Linked DNA regions of Homo sapiens. The gene in region 1 interacts genetically with each later gene. Each region holds a gene or a part of one and is shown on either strand. Other genes may lie near its edges.

Region 1 (7,388 bases):
TTCTTCTCTGATATGTCATCTTTTTCATATAATAAATTCCCAAATTATATACTAAATTTATTATCTGATTTTGACCTTTCCGCCTTGGTGTCATCATAAGTTATTTTAACTATGTAACTTTACAATGCATTTTTAAAAATATTTTATTATTTTTGACATCCTCTGGCTTTTCTAGCATGTTAATTTTGCCAGATAAACTTAAAAACTTTCCTAAAATTTTCCTTGCTATCTTGACCTTCTGTGTTTTGGTTTGACTCATATATGTTACTGTGTTGTGAAGGCTTAATTTTTACTTACCCAGATAGATGCCATGATATCCCACCTTTGCCTTGAGCTGAGATCACACTAATCTATTAAAAGAAAACAATTAGTAAATGGTATCAATATGTGATTCAGAACACAATAATCTTAGTCCAACCCTTAATCTTGAATCCAGAAAACAGATGTCAACATTCACAGAAAAACCTTCTCAGGAAGAGCATATATCTGACATTGGGTATCCCATTTGCTAAACAAACATTTACTGAGCATCTACCATATGCAAGGGACTGTGCTAGACCTGTGAGGACTTCAAGACAAGAGACAGAAAAAAATCTTTGTACTTAAGATGCTTACAAATATACTTCCTGAAAAGCCAATTTTTGACTTATTTAAAGTCCAGGAGAACTCTGCTGATTACTGACAGGCTACCACTACGGGGATCAATAACAACAAAAACACAGGATTTTACTCCTCCTCACCAAATCAACACAAAGTTTAGCTGCCTTCAGTTGGATTCCTTGTGCTTGATTGTGAAACTCCATGTACATTTTACAAGGCTCCAAGCCTACAGTCTGTTATAAAGACACATCTGCTCTTTGAGGAGGTGGTCCAGTCCTTGGTGGGGTGCAGAGGTGAAAGGCACAGTTCTTTGATTGGGAAGCCAGACACATTTTTCTTAAATAGATATTATTCAAACATGCTGGCATATCTCCAGGGTTGATTTAGAAATGCAAGTTGCTCCCACCCTTCCTGGGAACAAAATATTCTAAAAATTCCCTGACACCCCCAGAGAAAAGTTCAATGGGAAATTACACTATTAGTCTCTGGAAATATTTCACCTTGGTTTTTTCAGGCTCTCTGTAGCCTAGGGCAGTCAACTCTCCAGTTAGAGTCTAATACTGCATCTCTCTAAATACATGCTCTTTGACTTATGAGGGGTTACAGCCAGATAAACTATTCTGAAGTCTAAAAATCAGAAGTCAAACCATCTGTACAGTGAAAACAAGGCATTATTGGTTCTCATTTTGCCTCTTAAAGCTAAACACAATTTCTTTGGGCCTCAATTTCCTCATCTGTAAAAAGTGAAGAAGGGGGTGTTGCCAGCATTGAACGAGGTCAGTTTCACAGGGCTGGAGATTCTTCTTATCTGTGTGCACTGGTGCACGGTAGATATTTAAAAAAAAAACTTATTGATTAAATGAATGATTTAATACAAGCCGCACAATCATCCAGTGAGTTAGGTATTACATCTTCGTTTTGCATATGAAGAAGCTGGAGCCCAGAGAGGTATGGTAATGTCCCACAGTCACACAGCTAGTGAGTGGACCCCTACTGCATCTAGGCAGCTAGACTCTAAAGGTATGAACCTAACCCCCATGCTTCTGCCTTAATCTGCTGCCTGGCCCACACCTGACCAAATCTGACACTTAATATGCATTGATCCAGCAGAACTGGAAAATTATTAAGAATTATTACTAATCTATCATTTAACTTTTAAGATGTAAAGAATTACTCCACAGCGAAGGCCAAATGACTTAAACAGAATTTCAATATATCCTTTCCTGAAAGGGATTACATCATTTCCTTTTACTTCCTCCTCTACGGTTATTTCTAAACAGGTTTCTCTACACAACCACAGAGTTCTGGGAACAAGATTCTGGTTTTCTTTACATTTAAAAATTCCCTTTCTGGTCAGTCTGAAGTTTTCCGTCTTCGTGAAAACCAAAGGTGGTATCTTCATGGAGTAACGTTTTAATTAGTTACATTTTAAAAAATGATGTTGGTGAACATAGTAAATGTATCTTTCCCGGAGGGCAGGGTCTTGCTGTCAGTGCTGAACACAAATCCTTGGAAAGAATTCGGCCTGGGCTATGCAATTTCGTATCAGTAGCCAGAGGGGCCTCCAGCGACCCAGAACCTCCCAGCACCTGCATACTTTCCTATATATGGTCATCTGCAATCAAGTATCCAAATCTTCCACCTGGTGACTCAAATACCAAGGGAATGATTCATATCTAGTCAATAGGATTCTGTTGCAAAGAAAACGGTTAGTCTTTTCAGGAAAAAGCAAACTTCTTGAACTTCCAACCCTCAATATGCAAATCCACTGTTTTCTACCTTCTAAAAAAAATAAGTAAAATAAAATAAATTGCCTATGTGAGGGGGAGAAGATGCTCACAGGATGGGTGCGATTCCAAGTCCACAGAGCAGACCTCTGAGCCAGCCCCGTCTGCCATGCCGGGGACCCGAGGAACCTTCCGACTCCCAGCTTTTTTCTGTCCCCTAGACCTTTAGGACTGGGGAGGCCGAGATGGCTAAGTGGATCCCTTACGCTGCTAGCTGTAATAAGCGAAGCTTTCAGGGAGCGAGGACAGCTGAGTATCAGCTTGGGCCCCACCAAGACCTGGGTGACCCACCCATGGCACGGCACTTTCCCCCCCGTGGGCCCAGTCTCCTCGACTCTGAAATGCAGGACTGAGGTCCCTCCAGCTCCCCACCCACGCAGCTGGGTTGGGGCCGGGCGCGGGCGCCAGCCGCCAGCCCTGCCCAGGGTCGAGCTGCACTCGCGGGGGAACTGGGCGAGGCGCCGCGACCTCCCCAAGCCACCCGTCAGCAGGCGGCTGTGGGCGAGGCTCGCGGGGACGCGCCGGGAGGCTGAACTTACCCAAAGCGCGGTGGGGGAAACTGGTGTGCGAGTAAACTGCGAACAAACTGCGAGCGAAGGTGTCAGCCGCGGGCGCAGGTGCTCCGCGCTGGCTCCGGGTCCGGATCGCGACCGCACCCCTTCCTCCTGCCCCTCCTCCGGCCTCTCGACTCCACCTGATTGCGGCCCCAGGCCCCGGGAAAGGGAAGCCGCGCCCTGCTGCCGCCGGGCTCTATCCCTGTACACAGGCGCCCCAGCTCTGCTCCCTCACCGGTCTCTAAGCTTCCCCACCCTTTTCTCCCTACGCCCTCATTTCGCTCTCGGTTTCCACTACACCTTTACTTTCTCAAATGTACTGCAATGCTTATTTTGTTCTAGGCAGTGTGGATTCGGAGATTAGACTGTCCCTATACCTAAGGAACTCACTGCGTGGCATAGGTGGCGGACACCTAACATTAATAACATTGATCTGGCATTTACTTTGTACCAGGCACTGTTCTAACTTCTTTAAGAATATGCGCGGATTTATTAGGTTGGTGCAAAAGTAATTGCGGTTTTTGCCATTAAAATGGCTCCGACAACAACTCTATGAGGTAGATACTATTATCCCCATTTTATAGATGAGGAAATTGAGATACAGAGACGTTGGGTAACTTCAGCCAATTTACACAGAAGGTAAATGCCAGAGCTAGTGTTTGGAACCCAACTATTTCAGTAATTCCTCTACTAAACGTGTTGACCCTCTGGTATGAGGATTCCAACCAAAGGCTCAGGGAGACGGTAACCTGGAAGGGCATTCTAGGCATTTGGAAGAGCAAAACAAATCATCGAGGCTAAAAGGTTAAAGCCCTACTCGTATGAGGGAATTATGAGCAGTTGTGTGCTGAAGGATGTAGAAAAAGTTACCATGTATTGAGTATCAGGCATTGAAGTGCTTGAATACCTTACCTCTTTTATCTTCAAGGGAACTCTAGGAGGTGCTATTTTTATCACAATTTGCAGAAGAGAAAACTGAGGCTTAGAAAAGTGAAGTGATTTATCCGAGACCACGTAAGTAAAAAGTATTGCTTGCACTCAGTCATCACTGGGCCCCTTATGTATTCACCCGAAGGATTTGAAAACTTACCTCCACAAACACCTGCACATGGATGTTTATAGTAGCTTTACTCCTAAGTATCAAAAGTCGGAAGCAACCAAGATGTAATTCGTAGGTGAATGGATAAATAAACTGTGATACATCTATACAATAGAATTTTATTCAGCACTGAAAAGAAATTAGCTATCAAGCTATAAAAACACATGGAAGAAACTTAAATGCATATTATTAAGAGAAAGAAGCCCATTTGAAAATGCTACACACTATGATTCCAACTATATGACATTCCAGAAAAGGCAACACTACGGAGACAGTAAAAAAAATCACTGGTTTCTAGGAGTTGAGAGGAGGTAGGGTGAACAGGTGGAGCACAGAGGATTTTTAGAGGATAAGCATGGCTGGAGCTGCTTGAGTGTGAGTTGAAGAGATTACAGTCTTGGTCCTTAAGGCTGAGTCCTGGGACCTAGAAACTCATTAGAAATGCAAATTCCCTGAAACCCTGCGCCATCAAGTGATTCTGATGCATCCTAAAGTTTGAGAACCACTGGTTTAAGAGGAGCTACAACGGAGAAGGCAGAAGTGGTCATGCTTAAAAGGCCAGTGCCCTGGGAGCCCTCTCAGATCTACAAATCCGAAGTGATGGGCTTTCTGCAAGAGAGAAGATAGGATGGTGTTCTGCATTCTGTTCTGCATAGTAATTCCTGACTCCCATTCAGACTTCACCACAATAAACTGTTAAATCCCATGTTACCTCAAAAAATTCTGAGATTAGCATGAAATGGGGGAAAATATTTATTATTATTTGTGCCAGACACTGGGTAATGCACTTGACGTACGTGATCTATGTCATGCTTACCAACTAGCTGTAAATTAGGTATGATTGCCTCTATTTTGCAGATACAGACACAGGCTCAGAGGGACTCAGTAAGTTCTACGAGTTGTATTCCAGGCAACTAGGAAGTCATAGGGCTAGATTTATAGCCAGAAGAAAATGAGTAACAGGTGATGTTTTACATGTAGGCTTTATTTTAATTGTTTAAACCATTCAGGATTTAACTTCTTTGATTTCCTGATGGTAACTTTAACAAATGCACTTTTATCATTTTTTGAGTTTTTCTAGTTGTATCAACAGCCCAATTACCACCATTTATATTAGAAACATGCTATGGCATATTATAAAACTATTTTTTCCCCAAAGGATGAGTTTTCTTGGAAGGAAATATTAGAGGATGCTGTTAGAATCCAGGTTTATGGTTATCCAGAAAAAGAATTCAGAAAAGGTTATTTAATAAAAGTTTCATTATTCTGAATACACAGAACTTTACAGGTTAGTAAAAAGGGAATTTTCCTATAGCATCCTGATCAAAAGAACAATTTAACAGCCAAATACAAATTTTTAAAGCAAAGTTATTGAGATATATTTAGAACATATGGTAAAATGTGAAGGAAAGACCGACTACGTGATTGTGGCTGTTGAATACATAGCTGCTGTTACAGTGATGTGTTGGAGCTGGGTTATACCAGCATGTGAAAGCCAGTTCCTGAATTTTCAGTTATTTCACAGCCAGTATTAATGTAGACATTATTACAAGTTAAATAAATACAATTGAATAAATTACGTTAAAAGCAAAGGTAATAGGTACTCAAAATTAACCACTTCCTAATTATTTCACATTTTATTATTATTTTTTTTATTATTTATTTATTTATTTATTTATTTATTTATTTATTTTTTAATTGATCATTCTTGGGTGTTTCTCGCAGAGGGGGATTTGGCAGGGTCACAGGACAATAGTGGAGGGAAGGTCAGCAGATAAACAAGTGAACAAAGGTCTCTGGTTTTCCTAGGCAGAGGACCCTGCGGCCTTCCGCAGTGTTTGTGTCCCTGGGTACTTGAGATTAGGGAGTGGTGATGACTCTTAAGGAGCATGCTGCCTTCAAGCCTCTGTTTAACAAAGCACATCTTGCACCGCCCTTAATCCATTCAAACCTGAGTGGACACAGCACATGTTTCAGAGAGCACAGGGTTGGGGGTAAGGTCACAGATCAACAGGATCCCAAGACAGAAGAATTTTTCTTAGTACAGAACAAAATGAAAAGTCTCCCATGTCTACTTCTTTCCACACAGACACGGCAACCATCCGATTTCTCAATCCTTTCCCCACCTTTCCCCCCTTTCTATTCCACAAAACCGCCATTGTCATCATGGCCCGTTCTCAATGAGCTGTTGGGTACACCTCCCAGACAGGGTGGTGGCTGGGCAGAGGGGCTCCTCACTTCCCAGTAAGGGCAGCCGGGCAGAGGCGCCCCTCACCTCCCTGACGGGGCGGCTGGCCGGGCAGGGGGCTGACCCCCCCACCTCCCTCCCAGATGGGGCGGCTGGCCGGGCAGAGGGGCTCCTCACTTCCCAGTAGGGGCGGCCGGGCAGAGGCACCCCTCACCTCCCGGACGGGGCGGCTGGCCGGGCGGGGGGCTGACCCCCCACCTCCCTCCCAGACAAGGCGGCTGGCCGGGTGGGGGGCTAACCCCCACCTCCCTCCGGGACGGGGTGGCTGGCCTGGTGGGGGCTGACCCCCCACCTCCCTCCCGGACGGGGTGGCTGCCGGGCGGAGACGCTCCTCACTTCCCAGACGGGGTGGCTGCCGGGCAGAGGGGGTCCTCACTTCTCAGACAGGGCGGCTGCCGGGCGGAGGGGCTCCTCACTGCTCAGACGGGGCGGTTGCCAGGCAGAGGGTCTCCTCACTTCTCAGACGGGGCGGCCGGGCAAAGACGCTCCTCACATCCCAAACGGGGCGGCAGGGCAGAGGCGCTCCCCACATCTCAGACCATGGGCTGCCGGGCAGAGACGCTCCTCACTTCCTAGACGGGATGGCGGCCCGGAAGAGGCGCTCCTCACTTCCTAGATGGGATGGCGGCCGGGCAGAGACGCTCCTCACTTTCCAGACTGGGCAGCCAGGCAGAGGGGCTCCTCACATCCCAGACGATGGGCGGCCAGGCAGAGACGCTCCTCACTTCCCAGACGGGGTGGCGGCCGGGCAGAGGCTGTAATCTCGGCACTTTGGGAGGCCAAGGCAGGCGGCTGGGAGGTGGAGGTTGTAGCGAGCCGAGATCACGCCACTGCACTCCAGCCTGGGCACCATTGAGCACTGAGTGAACCAGACACCGTCTGCAATCCCCGCACCTCGGGAGGCCGAGGCTGGCGGATCACTTGCGGTTAGGAGCTGGAGACTAGCCCGGCCAACACAGCGAAACCCCGTCTCCACCAAAAAAATACGAAAACTAGTCAGGCGTGGTGGCGCGCGCCTGCAATCGCAGGCACTCGGCAGGCTGAGGCAGGAGAATCAGGCAGGGAGGTTGCAGTGAGCCGAGATGGTAGCAGTACAGTCC
Region 2 (7,023 bases), about 77 Mb from region 1:
ACCGGGCACCTCCTGTGGGGGTCGCAGGCGTGCGGGAAGGGTCGGCGCAGGCCACAGGGCTCGAAGCGGGCGGTCACCGTGGAGGCTGGAGCTGCCAGCCTTGCCGAGGCGGCCCCGAGTGGAGCGCGAGCCGGGGCGGGAGCGAGCAGGGCTGGGCGTGCGGGGCGTGCAGGGCGCGCGGCCAGGGCCTTGGAGCTGGAGCTCTTGTGCCGGCCGGCATGGGACAGAGTCGTTACCTGCTCGGGGCCCGTGAACGCTCAGCCAAAAGGCCTTCTCGGCCACGCCTATGAAATTGGTGGCTCGACAGAGGTACTCGCCCCCGTCCCGCTCCGACACATTGGCCAGGCGGAGGCGCACGTCGGCCTCCACACTCTCACTGATCCAGGACTGCGGGGACAAGAGACCCGGCTCAGGCACGCCCCCGAGGCAGCCCCGCCGGGCACGAGGCAGGATGTGGGAGACCCCCAAGGTACAGATCGAGGCTGGGCTGCGTCAGCCCCAAAGGCTGCCTGGAGGAGGCGTGGAGGCACTTCACGGTGGCTGTGGTTTCACAGGATGCACGTCTCTGCCTCCACCCCAACAACCCAGCCCAGACCCTCAGACAACCTCTGGTCACTGGCCTGCCCTCCCCCGGGCTCTTGCAGAACCTGCACCCTGGACAGGGCCCGAGGCGGCCTCTCTGGGCGGGGTCTGGACTCCACCCTCGCCCTGCGCCTGCTCCCCGCCCCCAAGAGACCGTCTTCTCTCTGAACAGATGTTTCTCTTTGGGCTTTGAGTGTCGCAACCGTCCCAATTCAGTGGCCCCCACCCGGCAGCCATGGGAACAAAGCTAAGGGCTTCAGGAGGCGGGCAGACAGTGAGCTCGGGCCCCACTGCACACAGCTGACGAGAGCCAATCGGCCAGGTCGGGGCTCAGCCACCGCCTCTGAGGCCCAGAGGGGGCCTGGAGGGCTTGGCCACACTGCCCTCCTGTCCTGGGGCACCACTGCTGCCCAAGCCGCACCCACCCCCAAGAAGCCCGTGGGCAGCTCCATGTCAGGGACTTCAGTGGCTGAGGCTGGCCCTCTGCAGACACGGAAACGGGTCCCAACGCAGCTGCCTATGGCCCTGAGGTGTGGGGTGGCTGAGACTTGGCCCCACAAGCACCCCCACAGCTTCTGCCCCCGAAGCTCCAACCCCTAGACCCAAATCCTCACGCAACCCGCAGCCAAGGGGCACCCTTGGGGCCAGCCCAGGAGCCCCAGCGGCGGCACCCACGTGCACACGGTGGCCCACCTTGAGCACGGTAACGTAGGGTGTGCCGTCCGGGCCCACCTTGCTGCCATTCACCTCCACGTGCTTGAGCCACTGGATGTGGGGCTGTGCGTCACTGTACACCTTGCAGTGGAACTCCACGTCGCTGCCCAGCACCGCCGTCTGGTTGGCCGGCAGCCCCGCCTGCAGGATGGGCCGGTGCGGGGAGCGCTCTGTGGGGGCAGATGACGCTCAGGGGCCACCCCCTCCCTCACCACCACCGCCACTGCCGCCCCCACCCCCGCGCCGCCCCAGGGCCCTCACCCAGCACGTCCAGCGTGTACGTCTGCCGGATGCTGCCAAACTTGTTCTCCACGACGCAGGTGTAGTTGCCGCGGTCCGAGGGCACCACGCTTTCCATGACCAGGCTCCACTGCTGATGCCGCAGCTGCACCGGGACGCGGGCGGGTGAGTGAGCGGAGGCAGCAACCACCGCGCCTGCCAGGCCCAGAGCCACCCCGCCGCGCCCACCTTGATGCCTCCAATGCGGTGCTCGCCGCGGAACTCCCTGCCGTTCTTCAGCCAGGAGATGGAGGGAGTGGGGTTGCCAGCGGCTGGGCAGCGGAAGCGGACGGTGTTGGCGGCCGGCACGGCCAGCAGCTTCTTGTCCATCCGCTCGGGCCGTGTCCAGTAAGGGGCCCCTGCGGGCCGAGGTGCGTGTGAAGGCCATGACCCGAGTGGGAGCAGAGGCCCCTCTGAACAACCCCCTTCCCAGAGCTGCCCCTGCCCATCCCCAGCCTCAGTTTCCCGTCCTGTGTAGGAAGAGGGCGGGATGAGGTTCCCAGGAGCCTCCACATCTTGTCCCCTCCCCGGGGCTTTCTCAGAGCTGGGCCGTGTGTCCCCTCCCCTCCCCTCCAGGGTGCTCTGCCCGGACCTGTGAAGTCACAGGGCACAGGGCATTGTCCAGGGGAGCCCACCTGCCCAGAGAGGCGTGCCAGGGCCAGGCCCACCAACGGGGAGACTGAAGACCCAGGGGGCAGGCCCATCTAGTGGACAAGCCAGGACCTGGGAGCAGTTTACCAGGAGAGGAGCCCAGTCGCCTGCAGAGCCAGGAGCCTTGGAGGCAGCTGGGCAGCATGGGCCCACGGAAATCAAGACCCTACACCACCCTCTGCAGAGCTCCAAGTCTGGCGGGCACCCAGAGACGGTGGCACCCTGGAGGCCCTGCCTCCTCCCATCTCGATGTCCAGGGCTCCCACCACCCCTCTCACAGCCCAACTGGTTTTTCTCCTTCCTCAGGGCTGGTGCTGCCTTCCTGCCGGGACTCCAGGCAAGGATGGGCTGGCATTCCCCAGGAGGGAAGCAGCCCTCCCCTCAGTGAGCTCACTGCCAGCCCCCTCCAGGCACACGCCCATCAGGGGCACTGAGGCCCAGCAAGCAGCAGTGTGGACACAGGCTGGAAAGAGGCACCCCACGGTGCTGAGCTCCCTCCCAGGCCTCCTGGAGACCCCCAGGGTGAGTTCCCCCAGCTGTTTCTCTCATGGACTCAGCCTCCCTTCCTCACCTGCTTACCCCACTGGCCCAGGGACCCAGCGCACACACCATCAGTCCGCAAGTCGTAACTGCCCCCCATGTCTGTGCCACGATGACCCTCACCTGCACGCACTCCCCTCAGAGCTCCCTCCAAAACCAGAAGCCCCACCTCCCCACCCTACAACTTGGCAAAGTCCACCTGCCACCGTTCCAGGCCGGGACGCCAGGCATCGTCCCCGACTGCTCTCTCACAGCCGCAGCCCACCCACCAGCCACCCTCCTGCCAGCCACCCTGCCCGCCACTGGTTGTGGCAGGTGCCCCGGCGCCCTCACCCCGGGTCCATCCACCCCACGGCAGCCACCTGAGTGCCCTGCCCTGCTGCGCTAATGTCTGCGGGGTCCACCTCACCTATAGCCAACACCAGAGCCCCACAGGCCAGCCCTGGCCTCCTCCTGCTCCTGGAACCCCCAGGGCCCTGTGCCTCAGTCTCCCCATCAGCAACACGGTGTCCCCTTGCACCCCAGCCCTGCCACCAGGGTGGGGCATCTAGAGCCATGTCAGTGACCCAGCCCCTCCTGTATCCTGAGGGGACCAGACCTTCGGGGTGACCCCAGGGAGGTTGTTCCGGGGCCTTAGTCCCTCAGCTGCCTGTGAAGGGCAGGGCTTGGCGGTGGCAGCGGGCCCCACCCCGGCTGGCCTGAACCCTGGACCCTGCTCCTACCTGTGTCCACACCTGTGTCCTCAGCCTCGTCCTCCCCGTCTTCGTCATCTCCCGAGGATGGAGCGTCTGCAAGGCAGAGATGGCCGCAACCAATGCCCAACCTGCCCCAGGAGGCCCCCAGGTGCCCCTCCCAGATGGGGCAGGGTCCCCCATTTGGGCAGCACTTCCTGGGGGTGCCCTCCTCTCCACCAATGACCAGAGAGACCCCCAGCCGCTCCTGACCCACGCAGGGACTCAGGGAGCCCGGCACTCGGCTCCTTTCTGTAGCTGGCGTGGCCCCAGAGCTCACCTGTCACCCGCACACTGAAGTGGCACAGTACGCGCTGCGTGAGCCGCTGCCGGCAGCTGTAGGCCCCGGAGTCCTCGTGGGAGGCATTCAGCACCTGCAGCCGCTGGGGCCCCACCAGGACACGCTCCGAGGGCACCAGCCCTGTGCCATCCTTGACCCAGACAGTGGGCCCCATGGGACCACCCCCGGGCGGGGGACAGCTCAGCTCCACAGCATCCCCGCTGCCGAAGACCAACTGCTCCTGCTGGCCGGGCTCTGGGCCCGGGACTTCTGTGGGGAAGATGGGCAACCATGAGGCAGGCACCCCCAAACCCGGCACCGTTTACAGACACAGCAGTGGAAGCCTCGGCGGCCCTGAGTGAGGAAGGCTCTGACCCAGATCCAGGGTCCCACCAGACCAGGGGCTGGAAACTGTGTCCCAAAAGGGCCAAAGGTCTCTATCTTCAGCTTTGCCAACCAGTCTGTCCCAAGGACTCCGGTCTGCCTCGGTGTGACAGCCGCCTTCCCCACACAACCTGCAGCCAACCCCACAGCAGTGGCCCCATGATGCTTCACTCATGGACACGGAGAATTCAAATCTCAAAGTGTCACAAAATGTGACTCTTCGTTCTTTTAATTTGTTCAATTGCTTGGAAACATAAAATCCATGCTTGTCTCACAGGCGGCACCACGACGGGCAGGTGCTGCGGGCAAAGGGGACAGGCTGCCCTTTGCTGGCCTCTGACTGAAATGGAGCTCAGAGGGGGTGCCAGGGTTGGCCAGCCAGCCCCCTCGTGGTGCAGATTCACCCCAGGAGGGGTCCGTCCTCAGTAGCCCCCGCACCCCATATGAGCCTGAAAAGCAGTTCAGATGGACAGCCAGGGAACAGAACAGGCGAGAAGGAAGGAGGTGCAGGGTCACGTGGCCGTGTGGACGGTCTGGGGGGCGATGCGCGGGTTCACCGGTCAGAGCACAGGCCGGAGCAGCGCGAGGGGGCCGGGGCGGGGGTGGGGGCTCCTTGGGGTGGGCAAGGTTCTGTATCCTGCAGCTCCTATGGAAGCTCCACACGGCGGTCATGACGGAAAACATACCGAGAAGAGCAAAGTACAAACACGGCGCTGGGTCCGGCCAAGTGGGTCTCACAGGCCGGGGAGTGGGGAGGCCCAGGCGGGCCCTCAAGGGGGCCGGGGGGTGGAGTCCTGCTGCCTGCAGGGGGACTGGGGCCCCCTCACAGAGGACGACCAGGCTGGGGGCAGGAAGCTGTGAGAGCCAGGGCAGGTCAGCAGCCCTGGCCCCTCCCTGGGGGCTGAGAAGCTGGGGTGGGGGCCCACCCACAGGGGCAGATGTGCAGGTGGCCCCTGGGTCCCTCCCCAGTAGCTGCCCAGCTCCCCAGAGCCACCAAAGCCTGTGACCCAAGGACACACCATGGGCAGGGCTGGGGGGACAATCGCCCCTAGGCTTCCCTGCCAGGGCCAGACAATGCATGCAGGCAGGCGTCCCGGGCTTGGGGCCGGGACGGGGGTGGGTGGTCCCCCAGGCAGCCTCCTTCTTCAGACCCAGCTGGGCGGGTTGCGCCATCACTTGTCATTCTGCAGACGCGTGGCCTAGATTCGGGGGCCCAGCTGCCCACTCTGGCCACACCAGTCCCTGGCTGCCCGGCCAGGCCCTCTTCTGCCCAACCCACCTGATCCAGCCACACACGCCTAGTGCCCAGGGTGACCCTGCCAGCCAGAAGGGCCCACACTCATCCCCTGAAGCATCCGAAGGAGCCCTCGCCCCACCGGGACCCACAGCTCAAGGACTGCCCCTGTAGGGACCCCGCAGTCAGGGGGGCTCCTGGCCTGACCTCCAGCCCTCCGGTCCTGGCCAGTGTCTTGTGGGGACCACCCAGAGCTGGGAGCTGCTCGAGGCCCCCCAGAAGGCCGAGAACAGGCTGGTTATGGCAGCCTCAGCTGCAGGCCCTGGCCCAAGGGCAACAGCCGGTTGGTTCCGGTTTGGTCTGAGTGGCGACAACAGGTCAAGCCATCCACACAAGTATTTGCTTCAGCCTGGTCCAGCACGGGGGGACGGGGGACACAGCAGCCCCAGGCCAGCCACACCAGTGGCCATCTGCCCGTGTGTGGTGGGGAGGGTGCAGCCCTGACTGCCCCCCCCACTGCCTGCCTGCTAGGTGCCAGCAGAGGCCAGGGTACCCCAGCAGGGGCTGGGTGGCGAGCACCAGGTGAAGGACAGTGTGACACGGGGCATGAGTGGGTGCTATAAGTTCAGGGTCTGACTCCCACTGGGAAGTCAGCAGTTGGGTGGAGCCCCCATACCCCACCCAGCTGCCAGGCATGGGGAGAGCTATAGCCCCCCAGCAGCCCTAGGAAGGGTTCTTTCTTTCTTGATCCACAAAAGGGAGGCCCCACTGACACCACACAGACACTGGTGCCCAAACACGTTGGAGACAAAACTCCTGCTGTACCCAAGGCGGGGTAGGAGGCAACGCGTCCCACCTCCCACCCTTCTATGGATCCCACAACACGTGCTCCTGCCGGCGCCCCAACCCCACACAGTGCCGACCTCAACTTGGGCTCCACATGCCAACGACAGCCCTCTGCTGTGTCCCAGAGTCTCCACAACTCTGCCACTCACTGGTCCTGTACCTCAGTTTCCCCCACTGTGGCACAAAGTAAAAATCCCACCCCACAGGCCCAGGAGCTCAGGGAGGGCACCAGGCCCTGAAATGGCTGCAGGAGTGAGGGTAGGGGTGAGAGGCGCTCCCTGCCCTGGGTCTCTGGCCCCAAGACTGATGTCCATTAGGCAGGGTGCTGGGGACGGCCAAACTCTGGCCTGGGGAACCTTTCTCCAGGCTCTGGGTCTCTGCAGTGGAGGCCCAGTGCATGTGAGGGAGCATGGCTGAGAGGATGGGGGAGCCTTGCTCCATCATAAGCCCCTCGGGTTGACCCCAGAGAACAAGGATCAAATCCAGACTCGCTTCCGGAGCTGGCTGCCCCAGGGGTTTATTTGGGTTTTGGGGTGAGATGAGGGCCTGGGGTCAGGAAACAACACATTCTGGTTTCGGATGCACATGAAGTTCTCTGCAGCTCTCTGGGGTACAGGAGGTATTGCCAGGTAGGAGCTATAAAATAGCCTAAGAGGAGGGGGCCCCCAAAAGTCCAGCCTCCCTGTCTCCCCACCTGGAGTTTCACAATAAAGTCCGGAAAAAAGGGATCTGGAGGCTGGGCAGGCTAAAGAGGGCTTGCCAGGGTTATCTGGCCTAATCCT
Region 3 (6,452 bases), on another chromosome or scaffold:
TCGTGATATATTTAGGATATTTAAATAAAAGGAAAATGGGGCTTTTCTACATACTATCTCCTCTTTGGGGAAGCTTTTTCATACTGGTTTTAGTTGTTTTCCTTTTTTCTCCCTACATAATCACCCCACAACTTCCAGCACCCTATAAGCCATTTTAAAACCCCTTCTCCACAGAGGAACAAGCAAGTAGGAGCAAAAACAGGGCATCAGTTCTGAGCAAGACGAAAAAGCACACGCAGCAGGACGGAAGGAGGCTAGACACCAACAGATGCAGTGTCTCTGACCTGGGACCCCCCTGCATCCGCAGCACTTGAGAATTCATAGGCCCTTTCCAGACCTGGCTTCCTGGGTCCCAGGGTGCACCCCGGGAGTTTCCTGCACATTCGCGCTTGGGCACCTCTCCCTGCCCTCAGGTGGCAAGAGGAGGATGGACAAGAGCTTTCCCGAGGCCCAGGCTATAAACAGTCTGCTTTGGCCTTGATGAGGTAAAGCAAAGTGACAGCTGTGGTCTGAGGTAAGACTTTATTGTATACTTGGGTGGGGTAGCCCAGATGGATGCAAGGTTGCAGGCATGGGAAGCAGCCCTCTTGGGTGTCACTCTGAAAATGAAGTAGGGTGGTGGCCGCACCTCGCCAGTGAATTAGTCCCCTACCAAGGTCTTACAGACCCACCCTTCCTCTCACCCTCCAGTTCCCACTGTCCTCCAAGGAGAAGAGCCTTGGGTAAGTGTCCCTCCCTCCTTCAGAGAGTGGGACTGTCTGCCTCTTGAAAGCGAGGATTGATGGTGGTCGTGATGGCACTTTTGTAGAGAGGATTACTGTCCTGGAGAAAGATGTTGCAGATTATAAGCAAAAATCCCAGGATTCCTCGTCCCCTTTCTAGACCTAAGAGGCCAGCCTTGAGCCGAATCCTAGGAGCTGATGGAAGTTAGCAGAGGGGTTGGTTACATGTGCCAGGGGCTGGGGGAACCCAGTGGGAGGAATCAGGGCTGGTCTTGTGGTGGGGGAACAGCTAAAAAGGGGCCTAACCAGGAAGTCTCCTCACCTGCTTCCAGTTGAGTTGTTGCTGCTCCTTCTCAAAGCGACTGTATTCCCGGCGGTCATAGATTTCCACCGAGAGCCGGTAAGCCAGGACCAGCCCCAGCCCCACTGCCACGATGCCCCCTACGCAGCCCAGCACAATGGCCTGCGTGTGGTCTGCTCCCTCTGTGAACAAGAAACCAGACACACTTGTGGGAGCTGGAGCATAGGGACAGATCATCAGTTGCTCACAGTGTGTCCAGCCTGTCCAACCCTGTCTGTCACTGAAAGCAAAGGGAACCCAGGGAGGTCCAAGGTTATCCTCACCGCCCAGGGCCTTAGCCTCGTCCACTTGCTCAATTGCCTCTGCCTTTGTCCTGGATTCACAGTTCTGCTTCAGCCCCCAGCCTGTTTCCCATTATCTTCACTCTGCATCCCCAGAGTTGAGACCCTGCCCATCAAACTTCCAGGGTTTGTGGCATCCCTGCCCACTTACTTTCTTGGGGTCTCACTCTGAGCACGACCGTGCCTCTGGCGTCATCCTCCACCAAGAAGAAGAACAGCTGGTTGTCCAGGGTCCGCTCTTTGCACCAGCCATCATCCAAGATAGGGGCCAAGGCCAGGGTCACATTGGTATGGGCACAAGCTGTACTGCAGTTGGTGGCCAGTGGGCCAGTCCTGAAGGCCCCACACTCTGCACAGTCCCTGTGTAGTAGATGCCAATAGGTTACCAGCTGGGCAGTTGTCACCCAATGCCCCTTGCCCAACTACAAGCAGGACGGAGAGTAGGCAGATGGGAGTAGCTCAACAAGCCCCACTGTGCCCCTGCTCCCAAGATGCAAGACCTGAGGCCTCACCGGTGTCTCTCGCATGGTGTCTTGCAGCCTGGGCATTGGTCGCATAGAGCACCATAGTAGCCGTCCAAGCACTGGCAGCGGTTGCATTTGCAGCGTCCATGCCCACTGCAGAGCCCTCCCTCGGGACTGATGCAACTGTCCATGTCCCCACTGCATTCGCATGCTCTGCCCGTGCGGTTGGCATGACAGTGACATACTCCACATTGGCAGCGACCAAAGCCTGGGGTAGAGCCATGCAGAGGGTGACAACCATACTCCACACACACAGTTGGCCATCATGTGGCACGACAAGCCCACGCATCCAATCTTTTTGAAGTATGCCAACCACACCCTCTAACCCATACACCGGAATCTTTTGATATTTGCCTTCCATGCCAGGAGATTCCCAGAGCCTAAGTGCCTTGGGAAGGCCTCTCAGACCCCGCCCTTCTCCCCAAGGCTCCAGGTACCTCCGCAGAGGATGCCCTCATGTCGCTCACAGCTGGCATCGTCACACTCGCACAGATGCCCAGAGCTCTGTCCACTGCAGCTGCAGCGTCCACATTGACAGTGACCCTTTCCACTGCACAGGGGCCCTGTGCCATTGGGAGCCCGGCACCCAGATTCCAGGTCTGGGGAGGACAGCTCTGCCACAGAGCACTCACAGAGCCGACCTAGGCGGCCAGGGGCACAGCTGGAAGGGGAAGGCAAAGGAGAGAAGTAGGTCAGAGGGTTTGATCACCCCTGACTTGTCTCTCCCAGGAACCTCTAAACCCAAGTTCTCAAAAGAGTTGGAGACAGACAAACAGCTGAAAGGATGTTAAGTATAGTGAAACACTGAGGGGTGAGAGAGTGGAGGGAGCCCCAGTCAGGGGGAGGGCCTGGACATACATGGGAAGCTTCAAGGGATGAAACTGAGTGGGGAGTCGGGATGTCGAGGAGACTCCTGTGGGGGGGATGGAAAGCAGCGGAGGAATACGGGCCAGGGTTGGTTGGTTGTTGGGAGCCAGGTGGTTGAAGGGAAGAGGAGGCCCTCACCTGCATACACCACATTGTAGGTGTCCCTGGCCATCACTGCAGTGGGGAGCCTGGGGCTGGGTGTCACTGCAATTACAGTCACACAGCGTGTGCAACTCCACAATCAGCTCCTCTGAGAAGCCAAGGGCCCGGAGCCTCAGGAGATGGGGCTCTGGGAGGCAGTGGGTGGCTTGGAGAGAAACCCAGAAAGTCACCTGAGAAGAGGCAGGAATCAGGCCATGGTTATACACATGCACACACACATACCCCAAACTCACCAATCATCCAGAACCTCACCCCTTAGTAAATGAAGGGATGGGGTCATGTTAACACCCAACTCCTAGAAACATGCCTGAGGAAGCCACTCAGACTGCTCCAGGAAGGATGGATGGAGGACTACCTCAGGCTCTCATGTCACTCCCTGTACCTGCCACCCATCTTTTCCTGCCTGCTTAATTTCCCACTCCCACCTCCCCCTGCCCGCCTTCTGCCTGTGCTTGCTGGCTCTCACCGTCTGGTTGATTCGGACGTGGTTGCACTGTCCTCGATCCTCAGCCTTACCCTCCCTCTTCTCAGGACCCTCACACTGGGATTCGTAAGAAATGTGGACCCCAGGAGGGAGTGAAGAGTGTTCAAGGGTCACGGTGGAAGACAGGCTCTATGGGAAGAGAGCGAGTGGATAACCACGTGAAGGCAGAAAAGGACTCCAACCCCACCTTATGTCCTCTCCAGGTGTTCCCAATTCTGCCAGCACCCTGCCCTCTGCCACCTGGGGCTCCTTCCATTCTGCCCAGTCGAGGCATTTCTGGAGGGAGGACCCGTGAGAACCTTGCATAGAACATACAGGATCCAGAGGCCTCTAATACAGCATTTCAGTGCAGCTGCCAGCAAGGGCCACTGAGGGTCACAGGCTGGCCAGGTGCTGTAAATGTACAGAGACCATGTTTGTGAAGCCCCACATCAGGACACATAACCTGGGTGCATGCCAGGTCTAAAGGGCAGATTCATTACAGAGTTTATCTTGGGAAATTTGATACTGTCTCAGATTTTCTTGCCATAGGTTTAGGAGATGCTCCCTGTTATCAAGAAGCCTACAGCCTAGTTGCAGAGGTAAGACCTAAACCACTAAGAATTTTTATGGTTCCTTCTACCTGTAAAATTCTATGGTTCTTGTGAAGAATAGCTCTGAATTATTTATAAACTTAGTGAAAGCAGGCTCCAGATCTCACATTGTTTATGTACAGACTGACTGGGGACAAATGCCAGCCCTTCTGTTTGTTATCTTTGTGACCTTGGACAAGTCACTTAGCCTCCTTGTGTGGGTTTCCTCATCTGTAAAATAGGGATGGTAACAGTTATGAAGCAAGGCTTTTGGCAGGGTTAAATGAAGTAGCAAACAGTATGTACACCTAGGATGGTGGGCGCATGAAATAAAAGCTCAGTGATTGAAACTTTCCTTTCTTGCCCAGAGCAGAGCTCCATGCTGTCTGCATGTCAGATGTTTTAAGATTTATGAATGTAAGATTGAACAGTTAATGACAGCCACATGCAGACTATAGGTAGGAGCTGTGGAATGTTAGACCAAAAAGTGACCATTTCCTCTTAGTTCTGCCACCCCACCCAAGGGCCCCTTTCCACCTTTCCCTAGTGCCCACCCTCACCATCTCCCCTTCCCCTGGCCCCTCACATTATAAGCATCCATGATGAGCTGTACCACGTTGCTGGAGTCCTCACTCAGCTCCCCAACTGCAGACTTAGGAATCAGTTTACTCAGCTCCTGAGTTTTGGGGAGTTAAGGGAAATGGTGGGTCACAGCTCTAGGAAAATGGGCTCCCGGAGGTCTGGAAGGAGGGCATATGGGGGACGGAGAATGTATCTTTGGGGGAATTGAGAAAGGTTGGGATGGGGCTGGGGGATCTGACATGTAGACAGCTCTCACCTGGTAGACAGGCAGTGCGGCACTGGTGACAGCAAAGATGGGCTGGATATTTGCTGCAGAGAGGGCCTGGGCTACCTGACCCACAGAAGGGTAGTCCTGGGACAGGGAGCAGGGACAAGGTGAGCCCCACAGGTTTCCCCCACAACATGCAAGGTGCCCTCAGCCCAGGGAATCCAGGAACCAAGGTTCCACCAGCTGGAGGAGCCCTGGAGGCTTGCTATGGAATAGGAAGGAGGTAGGGAATGGGGTGACAAAGGTGTCCTGTCTCGGCAGCTGAAAGGAGGAACTGCTGGAGAAGATGGCAGGGTGTCTACAGGGTGGTTACTGGTGAGGACTGTAAGGCTGGGAGTGGGAGTCCTGGAAGGAAAGAGGTGTGGCTGAAATGGGGAGAGGCAGGGTGACAATAGGGACTCACAAACTCTGTGCTGCGACTGTAGAGGCCATTGCTGTCCAAGTGGCAGTGCCCATCACTGGGCATGAAAATGCCGCCCAACTTCCCGTCCCCAGCTGTATGGAATGTGTCGTCTGAAGTGAACACCAGCAGCCGGGACACATTTCTCCAGCCAATCTGCTCCTGAGTTACAGTGGGGGTGGTAGGCTATGCACCTGGGCATGGCCCTTGAGCCACCCCAGCCAGCTCTGTGAGCCAAGAATGTGGCCAGCCTCACTCTGAGTCAGCTTGTCCATCCCCTTGCCTCCAGTACCTTGCTTCTCCCTGCTCTCTCCAGCCCCCTAAAGAAGGCTGCTGCTAGTGGAGGCTTACTTGTGAATTCGAAAAACATGCCTCCTCCTCAAGATATTTTACTCCAACCCACCAGGTAATTGCTAAATATACAAACTACAGCAACTATGGTATGAATGGCACCCCCTAGAACTGTGCACTACACAACCATAAGGGGCAGTCCTGTTCCCAAACAGACCTCCAGGCTCAGATCCCCGCCCCACCTCCTCACCTGGCAGAGTGCAGCCTGCAGAATGGCATCGAAGCCACCTTCAGGCGAGTCCAGATTGCCGGACACACTCTGGCGCCCCACCTCCCGCTCGAAGGCTTGTGCGTCCCCCGTCAGGGACAGCACATGGTGAAAGCTGAATGGTGACTGGCAGCGCTCCAGCCGGGTGGGGCAGGGGTGGCGCAGTTTGGAGGGTACTGTGCTCACAAAGGGCAGCACCGTTTTGTCCACAAAGGAACCAAAACCTGGGAGAGGAGAGGAATGAAGGTTGTGCCAGAAGTCGCAGGGCAGCAACAGAGGACCCATGAGAGCGCTCTATGGGAAGTGGGGTGGGGAGGACGGTGATGGGAGAGGGTGCACCTAGGGGGCAGGGACCTGGTAACTGGCAAGCAAAGCAGTGAGACCACTGGCTCAGGGAAGTGGCAGGTAGAAGACATTAAGAGGAGGACACAACTTCCTGGGCAAATGGGAACTTCCAGAAGGCGGAAGAAGGCCCGGGTATAGGATATGGTAGCAGCATGAGGCAAAGGAAGGAAATTTGAATAGAGGAGAGTTGGCACAGAATGTGGAGCCAGGGACAGTGGCATCTAGGTCTTGTCCAGGGAGACTTGCATCAGGGCAGGTTCCAGGTTGGTAGGCCCAGGGCAGCTGTCCAGGCCCAGAGAGTGCCTGAGCACAGTCTCTCCAGACG

What was found. A genetic interaction does not mean that the proteins touch.
Region 2: changes in ANXA3 (region 1) and FGFR3 together harm fitness more than expected from each alone (negative genetic interaction), as found in Homo sapiens cells (one study listed by BioGRID).
Region 3: changes in ANXA3 (region 1) and ITGB7 together harm fitness more than expected from each alone (negative genetic interaction), as found in Homo sapiens cells (one study listed by BioGRID).

Annotation. Positions count from the first base shown.
Region 1 is NC_000004.12:78,547,398-78,554,785, reverse strand, and holds the start of ANXA3 (annexin A3), read right to left. Parts: upstream 3,017-7,388; 5' UTR 2,927-3,016; intron 351-2,926; 5' UTR 313-350; coding exon 298-312; intron 1-297. UniProt on the Homo sapiens protein: Inhibitor of phospholipase A2, also possesses anti-coagulant properties. Also cleaves the cyclic bond of inositol 1,2-cyclic phosphate to form inositol 1-phosphate.
Region 2 is NC_000004.12:1,796,278-1,803,300, reverse strand, and holds part of FGFR3 (fibroblast growth factor receptor 3 isoform 1 precursor), read right to left. Parts: intron 4,048-7,023; coding exon 3,778-4,047; intron 3,555-3,777; coding exon 3,489-3,554; intron 1,935-3,488; coding exon 1,765-1,934; intron 1,682-1,764; coding exon 1,558-1,681; intron 1,467-1,557; coding exon 1,276-1,466; intron 388-1,275; coding exon of another isoform or gene 237-387; intron 1-236.
Region 3 is NC_000012.12:53,190,815-53,197,266, forward strand, and holds the end of ITGB7 (integrin beta-7 isoform a precursor), read right to left. Parts: intron 6,007-6,452; coding exon 5,765-6,006; intron 5,386-5,764; coding exon 5,227-5,385; intron 4,908-5,226; coding exon 4,812-4,907; intron 4,650-4,811; coding exon 4,560-4,649; intron 4,329-4,559; exon of another isoform or gene 3,531-4,328; coding exon 3,384-3,530; exon of another isoform or gene 3,088-3,383; coding exon 2,894-3,087; exon of another isoform or gene 2,550-2,893; coding exon 2,326-2,549; exon of another isoform or gene 2,097-2,325; coding exon 1,877-2,096; exon of another isoform or gene 1,725-1,876; coding exon 1,516-1,724; exon of another isoform or gene 1,206-1,515; coding exon 1,045-1,205; exon of another isoform or gene 918-1,044; coding exon of another isoform or gene 885-917; exon of another isoform or gene 823-884; coding exon 742-822; 3' UTR 509-741; downstream 1-508. UniProt on the Homo sapiens protein: Integrin ITGA4/ITGB7 (alpha-4/beta-7) (Peyer patches-specific homing receptor LPAM-1) is an adhesion molecule that mediates lymphocyte migration and homing to gut-associated lymphoid tissue (GALT).